Linked DNA regions of Homo sapiens. The protein of the gene in region 2 interacts with the protein of the main gene of each other region in a biochemical or structural test. Each region holds a gene or a part of one and is shown on either strand. Other genes may lie near its edges.

Region 1 (4,404 bases), on a different chromosome or scaffold from region 2:
TACTTCTGCTCCCGGGGCAGGGAGAACCAAAGAAACAGGGATGGTCAGGCCAGAAATGCCTTCAGGGATCTTCTAACCGAGCCCATCCCCCTTTGTATAAATAAGACCCCCGCTGCTCAGAGGGGAAAGGGATTTGCCCAAGCCACATGGTTGAGCTGCCCTCCTACCTCACATAGAATCTTACAAGGCATGGTGAGCTCAGGACCACCCAGGGAGGGGCAGTTATCAGACCAGCACCCAGGACTCTAACTCTTCCCCCACTTCAGAGCAGACAGGCACAGGCTCTCATGCTGCCTCAGCGTCCTTCTTCAGGGCCTCAGTTTCCTTTGCTGTGAAGTGGTGATGACCTTACTCCATCTCCCAGGTCCCTGGGACCATCCCCGGGGGGCAGTGGGGGTGAGAAATGGACCCAAAGAAGGAGCTGCCTCTGTGTCAAAGGCCATGTGTATTTCCTCCTCACTTGGACCCGTGTTGTTGGACGGGGCAGGGTTTCAGGGCCCTACTGGCTCTTTGGGCCTTGGACAATCCTGTGACAGGATCCAAGTGGTCAGGCGGTTCATGGTCATGTAACCTGGGGTTATTCACACTTCTGAAGGAGCCCCACGGTTCGGTATGGAGGTAAAGGCCTGAGGGAGGCAGCAGGACAGACAGTGCTCTAGGCCCCCTCCCTGCATCTAATCGATCAGCTTCCATGTAGGATTCCATTTCATAAAGCTCTCTGCTGCTAAAATAAACTCACAGCGCCAGCCCATCCCCTCCTAGAACCAGCAGGGAAACTGAGGCCCAGAGAGGACAAAGGGTGGTCCCCTAAATGCCAGCCCATCACGCAGAGCCTTGTACTCGGTGTCTGACTTCTGCACCAGAGCTCTCCGTGCTCCACCCCTACCCTGCCTCAACATACCTTTTTGTAACCTTCGCCCAACAGTCTCTCGAGAAGCAGCACCAGCTGGGAGAAGGGGGGCCGAATCTCAAACTTCTCTTCCCAGCACTTCTGCATGATCTCATAGCTGGGGATAGGGAGAAGGGTCAGGGCCTCTGGCCCAGGGTTCAGGGGACAAGGCAGGGCTGGGGGAGCAGGAGGCTGCTGCCTCTCAGAACAAGGTGAGCCATGGAAAGGAGCTGGAGGGAAGTGGTGGCTGGGTGTATCCAGAGGTCCTGTCTCTGGATATTCCCTTGGGAGGCCCTCGCAGAGCCCCCATTCCACATGGTTCCACAGGTTGACTACGCCTGGGTGAGCACAGGAGCCAACCTTCGCCAACAGTTTTCAGCCCTGCAGCTTCCACGGTTGGTTCTTGATGGCATGTGACCCCACCTGAGCCCTTGAAGGTCAGCTCTGGGACTTTTGCTGGCACTATGGAGCAAGCAGTAGGACATGAGACTGGCACTGCTGGTAGCCATTTGGGCAATGCTGGCCTGAAAATGAGGCCACACAGAGCAAAGCAGAGCTCAGGGCTAGAACAAGAGGTTCCTGATGCCATCCTTTGAATGGCTGGATCCAGTTACACCAAGGCTTTCTAGATCTCTGAGCTAACAAATCTCTCATCTTTGGTTTAAGCCAGTAGAGTTGGATATCTATTGTTTGCAGCACAAAATCCTCCCAAATGCATGAGACTCCACTCACATCTCGTCGGAGGCATGGGCAGGCTGGGCCATGCGGTAACCCCGTTTGATGGCATTGTAGAACTGCTCGTTCATGGGCAGCTCTGGGTAAGGGGTGCCACCTGTTGGGGAGCAGAGACAAGAGATACACAGGCTCAGGGGTGGAAAAGTGGCAGGGCACCCTCTTCTACAGGACAAGGAGAGCCATGCTGGCCCTGGTATGGGTAAGGGGGCAGTGCCCCTGGCATTTGGAACTGTGGGCTCCTTCATGGGCTCTGAACAGAGACCACAACCCTCCCCAGGATAGACAGCCAGAATGTGAGAGCCAAGCAGGCTTTCTGATGTCACTGTTCAAACCTGTCAATGCTCAGACAGGGAGATAAAGAGACCCAGAGAGGGCAAAGAATTTGCTAACATCACACAGCAGGGAGAAGGTAGCAGAGCTGGGACCTGAACCAGGATCCCTGTATCAGGGCTCGTCCCATAGCCCCACCAGGCCAGAGGCATGAGTGGTCGAGGTAGACACCAGGCCAGGATGCTGAGGGCTGGAGGAGGAAGCAAGCATACCCAAGGTGAAGATCTCCCAGAGCAGGATCCCGAAGGACCACACGTCGCTCAGGGTGGTGTAGAGGCTGTTGAAGATGCTCTCCGGAGCCATCCACTTTAAAGGCAAAAAGGTCTGTAGGGAGGTCAGGACAGGTGCTGAGTGCAAGGAAGGACCTCAGCCCCACTCTGCACCTGGGATGGGAGGAGGGTATCTGGCAGCTCCCACCCACAACCACTTCTCCGTCCCATTCCCTGTGAGGGCCCTGGTCTCTGCGCAGCACAGTTCCCATGTCCATCCCAGGGCTGGTCAGAGGACCAGAGGCTGTTTCCTTTCTCACTAGCTGGGGACAAGGCAGCCCCTGTCCCTGGGGAAAAGCCCCAGGGTCTGAGTAGTGAAGTGTGGGAGCCAGGGACTTGTCAAGGCACCCCCCAAGCTCTTATCCTGGCTGCCTTTGATCTCTGGGCCTAGCGTCCCTCCATCTGGGGTTTGCGGAAAAGTGGGGAGATGAGAGACAGGCAGGATGATCACGTTTTAACCAGACCAATCCCTGCTACTGCATGTGACCTGCTCATCTTTCTTGCCCTGTCACCTGGGCTTCTTCCTCTGCCCACCACCACTGGAACAACACATTCGGCCTGTTCCCCCTTCCCCCACCCTGGACCCATTATAGCCAGCCCTCCCCGCCGCTATACTTGCTCCATGCACTCCTGGGCGGCTCCCCATCCTGTCCCTGCACACATAGCTGGGCAGGCACAGCCCATCACTGCTGTCAGGGCAGGCCACAAGGAGCCCCACACAGATTTCCTATGAGCTGCAGCCACACTGGTCAGGAGGGAATCTGTTCCTGCGGTCACAGGCACTGTGACTGCCCTGCAGGGGCCAGGGAAGGTACTCACGCTGCCTTTGGAGATGTAATTCGAGTCCCGCATGATGTCTCGAGCCAGGCCAAAGTCACAGATCTTGACCAGCTTGCCTTCACAGATGAGCACGTTCCTAGCCGCCAGGTCTCTGTGGACGCACTGGGTTTGGGGAGAGGGGAGCTGAGGCCTTGGGGACAATTGTGGGGAAAGACCCTTCATGTCAAGGGCTTTGGGAAAATACAACACTGCCCATGTGCGAGAGGCCACCCTGGTGTGCTCTTGGAGGATGCTGGCTGGCTGGGTGACCCACCTCCCCACAGCCCCCACTCTGCCCCACCAACACCACACGTACGTTCTTGGAGGCCAGAAACTCCATGCCATTGGCCACCTGGTAGCTGAAGCCCACGAGGTCCATGTAGCTTAGCACTGGAGACTCGTTGATCAAAGTTGCTCGGCAGGTCCTCTCAGGGGCTAGAGGAGAAGCAGAGGGTCACCTGCTATCTTATATCTCCTTCTGGCCCACAGGACCCCTGCCCTTTGGCTCCTGGGAGACTGAATGTCCAAGACAGGTGGCTACTGATCGTCTAGGTCTCCCCTAAAAGGAGAATGATTTCTTAATATCAAACTCAAAGTTCTCCTGCTTTATCAGTGCCCTCATTGGCCTTTTGGCATTAGCCCTTGGGCCACTTTTGCCCAGCCTGGCCTGCCTGCCTGCCTCTCAGGGACACTAGACCAGCCTGGGGCTGAAGCTGAGTAGATCACTTTCCCTACCACGACAAAAGGCCAGGTCCTCCCATATCCCTGCTCTCTCCCTCCCTGAGGGTTCTACGCATGTTTCCGGATCCATAAACAGGGCTTCCGTTTAGGGGTCCACTACAGATCAGTTTTGGCCAGGTGGCTAGCCTCAATTTCTACATCTATGAAATGGGCACGAGGCTCCCTTCTTCTCAGGGTTTTTGGCAAGGCTGGGCATGTGAAGAGCATCAGCCTGTTTGGATGTGGGGTACTATGTCACTATGTCCACCCACCAGAGGGAACGTAGTTATCGTAAGGGGCCATGTAGTTGGAGGACTCGATGTCTGCATATTTGACGTCTCCTTTCATGTCCAGCATGGGCACATAGTCCACCGACTCGTCCTTGCTCATGTCCATGTAGCCACCGTCGCTCTCCCCGGTCAAGGACACATGGCTGGGGGTAAAGGAGCATCACAGGAGAGCCTGCAGGCTTTGCCTTCCCCTCCCCTCCTGCCCCTTGCCACTCATGAATTTCTTCTCTCACTCACACACTCACTCATCTTCCTTCAGTCTATCCCAGTAGGAAAGCCTGTGGATCAAGACTTTTCAACCAACCTGCTGGGCCAAGCTGGGCACTGAGGCTACCAAAATGACAGTTAGAAC
Region 2 (4,785 bases):
TGACAGCTAGAGAAATGACAGCTGGTAGCCTAATAGTAAGATCCAAGAGAGAACTAAAATGAACAAAACTGCATTTTTGCCTATTACAACTGAAGGTTTTTGAAATGTTGATACTTATTCATCAAGAAAACACCAAATTCTAGCTGGGCAGAGATCACACGTGCCTATATAGTCACAGCTACTTGAGGGGCTGAGGTGGGAGAATAGCTTGGGTCCAGGAGTTTGAGGCTGCAGTGAGCTATGTTATCACCACTGCACTCCAGCCTGGGCAATATAGGGATACCCCATCTCTTAAAACAAAACAAAAAACGAATTCTGTCCAATCATTGGCGTAAAACCAGAAAGATCACAAGATCTGACTTTGATGCCAAGTCAGAAAATTGTTTTTACTTTGGTCTGATTATAAGAAACTGTTTTAGGGTGATAAACTTAATTGCTTATATGCCTGTGGCTAGAAACACTAGAAGTTTCTTTACATTTCTCCTAGTATTTAACATCTTTTTTTTTTTTTTTTTTAATTTTTGAGATGGAGTCTTACTCTGTTGCCCAGGCTAGAATGCAGTGGTGCGATCTCTGCTCACTGCAACCTCCACCTACCAGGTTCAAGTGATCCTCCTGCCTCAGCCTCCCGAGTAGCTGGGATTACAGGCGTGCACCACCATGCATGGTGGTGTATTTTTGTATTTTTAGTAGAGACGGTGTTTCACCACATTGGCCAGGCTGGTCTTTAACTCCTGACCTCAGGTGGTCTGCCCGCCTTGGCCTCCCAAAGTGCTGGGATGACAGGCGTGAGCCCCCGTGCCTGGGCGTATTTAACATCTTCATATGGAGCCTGAATTTTCCTGTTTTTTTTTCTATTCCTGTCAGTAGGGTAGAATTTTGTTTGCTAGCATATCAGGCTCAATGGAATTCTGCTTTCTTGAAGTGTGTGCCTCACGAAATGGCTGGAAAGAAGTTAACGGGTCTAAAAATGAGGTTGAGGACGTGGGAGAGTGTACACATTGGTGGTTTTAGGTGTGCATCATTGTGTAGGTATGTCAGACTGAACAACCCCATTCTCTTGAGATACATGACAAAATGCCATTCTGTAGTCCACTGTTACTGTCTTTCAGGGTTTTACATATGTGGCTCCATCTGTACTTGAAAGTGTGAAAGAAAAGTTTTCCTTTGAACCAAAAATCCGATCACCTCGAAGATTTATTGGCAGCCCACGAACACCTGTCAGGTATTTCACACTCTTATTTTCACTTTTTTTTGTTTTTAAACAACCTACAAGAGTGTTTGCTTAAGAAGTTTATGCCAAGTTATATAAATGAAAGACTGTCATACTCTCTTTGGTTGACATAAGCACAGCATCTATATCTTACATTGCAAAGGACTAGTCTGACTAATCTATGATGTTATATGGTTTACCTTCCCTCCCAAAAGTAAGCAGCCATACTGGCAAATGTCCTCTTTATCCATTCACTCAGCATTTATTGTGCACCAAGAGCACCAGCACTACATACTGCATGTTATGTGTGTGTATCTATATAGTACTATAATACAGGAATTGTCCCTGTCCTGATGAAGCTTACAATTTAGTGGGAAAGTCACAATAGACAAAGGATATACAAAAATATAATTACAAGTAGTGCAAAGTGCTATAATTTAAAAGGGGAAAAAAAGAATGTACTGGTAGAGAGCAGAGGAAAAACAAGGGGGCTTCTACTCACAGTGATCAGAGAAAGGCCTCCCTGGTGTAGTAACATCTAGCAGTGAACGGAAAGAGCCAGCCCTACAAAAATAGGAGGTATAAGAATGTTGCAGGCAGAAGAACAGCAAATGCAAAAACCCTGAGGGAGGAGAAAAGTTGCCCTTTTCCTGGAAGTGAAAGGGAAATCAGTGTTCCTGGAGTGTGTGGTGAGTGAGGAGAAGGGCAGAGGTTTGGAAAAGTATTTTATTTTAAATGCAATAGAAAGCTGTTTTGAGCAGGGGAGAGTAAAATGATATATATAATACGCATTTAAATGTATATATATCTCATTGAGGGTTTTGGGGGTCAGGTGTAGAGGTAAAGAGACCAGTTAGGAAATTCTAGCAGTTAATCTAGGTGGGGGAGAGATGGTTCAATTTTTGCCTTTGTGCTAATCCACGTGAAAATAAAATTAAATGAAAATAAATGTCATGTTACCCCACTCCCTTTAAACGTAAAGGAAATATGTCTTGTTGAGATGACCCTTAAGCAAATGAATGATAGCTCTTCCTTGTCTTAAAGCCCAGTCAAATTTTCTCCTGGGGATTTCTGGGGAAGAGGTGCTTCGGCCAGCACAGCAAATCCTCAGACACCTGTGGAATACCCAATGGAAACAAGTGGCATAGAGCAGATGGATGTGACAATGAGTGGGGAAGCATCGGCACCACTTCCAATACGACAGCCGAACTCTGGGCCATACAAAAAACAAGCTTTTCCCATGATCTCCAAACGGCCAGAGCACCTGCGTATGAATCTATGACAGAGCAATGCTTTTAATGAATTTAAGGCAAAAAAGGTGGAGAGGGAGATGTGTGAGCATCCTGCAAGGTGAAACGACTCAAAATGACAGTTTCAGAGAGTCAATGTCATTACATAGAACACTTCAGACACAGGAAAAATAAACGTGGATTTTAAAAAATCAATCAATGGTGCAAAAAAAAACTTAAAGCAAAATAGTATTGCTGAACTCTTAGGCACATCAATTAATTGATTCCTCGCGACATCTTCTCAACCTTATCAAGGATTTTCATGTTGATGACTCGAAACTGACAGTATTAAGGGTAGGATGTTGCTTCTGAATCACTGTTGAGTTCTGATTGTGTTGAAGAAGGGTTATCCTTTCATTAGGCAAAGTACAAAATTGCCTATAATACTTGCAACTAAGGACAAATTAGCATGCAAGCTTGGTCAAACTTTTTCCAGCAAAATGGAAGCAAAGACAAAAGAAACTTACCAATTGATGTTTTACGTGCAAACAACCTGAATCTTTTTTTTATATAAATATATATTTTTCAAATAGATTTTTGATTCAGCTCATTATGAAAAACATCCCAAACTTTAAAATGCGAAATTATTGGTTGGTGTGAAGAAAGCCAGACAACTTCTGTTTCTTCTCTTGGTGAAATAATAAAATGCAAATGAATCATTGTTAACCACAGCTGTGGCTCGTTTGAGGGATTGGGGTGGACCTGGGGTTTATTTTCAGTAACCCAGCTGCAATACCTGTCTGTAATATGAGAAAAAAAAAATGAATCTATTTAATCATTTCTACTTGCAGTACTGCTATGTGCTAAGCTTAACTGGAAGCCTTGGAATGGGCATAAGTTGTATGTCCTACATTTCATCATTGTCCCGGGCCTGCATTGCACTGGAAAAAAAAATCGCCACCTGTTCTTACACCAGTATTTGGTTCAAGACACCAAATGTCTTCAGCCCATGGCTGAAGAACAACAGAAGAGAGTCAGGATAAAAAATACATACTGTGGTCGGCAAGGTGAGGGAGATAGGGATATCCAGGGGAAGAGGGTGTTGCTGTGGCCCACTCTCTGTCTAATCTCTTTACAGCAAATTGGTAAGATTTTCAGTTTTACTTCTTTCTACTGTTTCTGCTGTCTACCTTCCTTATATTTTTTTCCTCAACAGTTTTAAAAAGAAAAAAAGGTCTATTTTTTTTTCTCCTATACTTGGGCTACATTTTTTGATTGTAAAAATATTTGATGGCCTTTTGATGAATGTCTTCCACAGTAAAGAAAACTTAGTGGCTTAATTTAGGAAACATGTTAACAGGACACTATGTTTTTGAAATTGTAACAAAATCTACATAAATGATTTACAGGTTAAAAGAATAAAAATAAAGGTAACTTTACCTTTCTTAAATATTTCCTGCCTTAAAGAGAGCATTTCCATGACTTTAGCTGGTGAAAGGGTTTAATATCTGCAGAGCTTTATAAAAATATATTTCAGTGCATACTGGTATAATAGATGATCATGCAGTTGCAGTTGAGTTGTATCACCTTTTTTGTTTGTCTTTTATAATGTCTTCAGTCTGAGTGTGCAAAGTCAATTTGTAATATTTTGCAACCCTAGGATTTTTTTAAATAGATGCTGCTTGCTATGTTTTCAAACCTTTTTGAGCCATAGGATCCAAGCCATAAAATTCTTTATGCATGTTGAATTCAGTCAGAAAAGAGCAAGGCTTTGCTTTTTGAAATTGCAACTCAAATGAGATGGGATGAAATCCTATGACAGTAAGCAAAAACAGAACCATGAAAAATGATTGGACATACACCTTTTCAATTGTGGCAATAATTGAAAGAATCGATAAAAGTTCATCTTTGGACAGAAAGCCTTTAAAAAAAAAATCACTCCCTCTTCCCCCTCCTCCCTTATTGCAGCAGCCTACTGAGAACTTTGACTGTTGCTGGTAAATTAGAAGCTACAATAATAATTAAGGGCAGAAATTATACTTAAAAAGTGCAGATCCTTGTTCTTTGACAATTTGTGATGTCTGAAAAAACAGAACCCGAAAAGCTATGGTGATATGTACAGGCATTATTTCAGACTGTAAATGGCTTGTGATACTCTTGATACTTGTTTTCAAATATGTTTACTAACTGTAGTGTTGACTGCCTGACCAAATTCCAGTGAAACTTATACACCAAAATATTCTTCCTAGGTCCTATTTGCTAGTAACATGAGCACTGTGATTGGCTGGCTATAACCACCCCAGTTAAACCATTTTCATAATTAGTAGTGCCAGCAATAGTGGC

Evidence for each region.
Region 1: of the proteins of RPS6KB1 (region 2) and PDGFRB, one has a biochemical effect on the other in vitro, tested with the Homo sapiens proteins (one study listed by BioGRID).

Annotation. Positions count from the first base shown.
Region 1 is NC_000005.10:150,117,846-150,122,249, forward strand, and holds part of PDGFRB (platelet-derived growth factor receptor beta isoform 1 precursor), read right to left. Parts: intron 4,196-4,404; coding exon 4,035-4,195; intron 3,478-4,034; coding exon 3,359-3,477; intron 3,166-3,358; coding exon 3,043-3,165; intron 2,279-3,042; coding exon 2,167-2,278; intron 1,722-2,166; coding exon 1,622-1,721; intron 1,008-1,621; coding exon 902-1,007; intron 6-901; coding exon 1-5. UniProt on the Homo sapiens protein: Tyrosine-protein kinase that acts as a cell-surface receptor for homodimeric PDGFB and PDGFD and for heterodimers formed by PDGFA and PDGFB, and plays an essential role in the regulation of embryonic development, cell proliferation, survival, differentiation, chemotaxis and migration.
Region 2 is NC_000017.11:59,944,294-59,949,078, forward strand, and holds part of RPS6KB1 (ribosomal protein S6 kinase beta-1), read left to right. Parts: intron 1-1,112; coding exon 1,113-1,225; intron 1,226-2,257; coding exon 2,258-2,495; 3' UTR 2,496-3,293; coding exon of another isoform or gene 3,294-3,309; 3' UTR 3,310-4,785. UniProt on the Homo sapiens protein: Serine/threonine-protein kinase that acts downstream of mTOR signaling in response to growth factors and nutrients to promote cell proliferation, cell growth and cell cycle progression.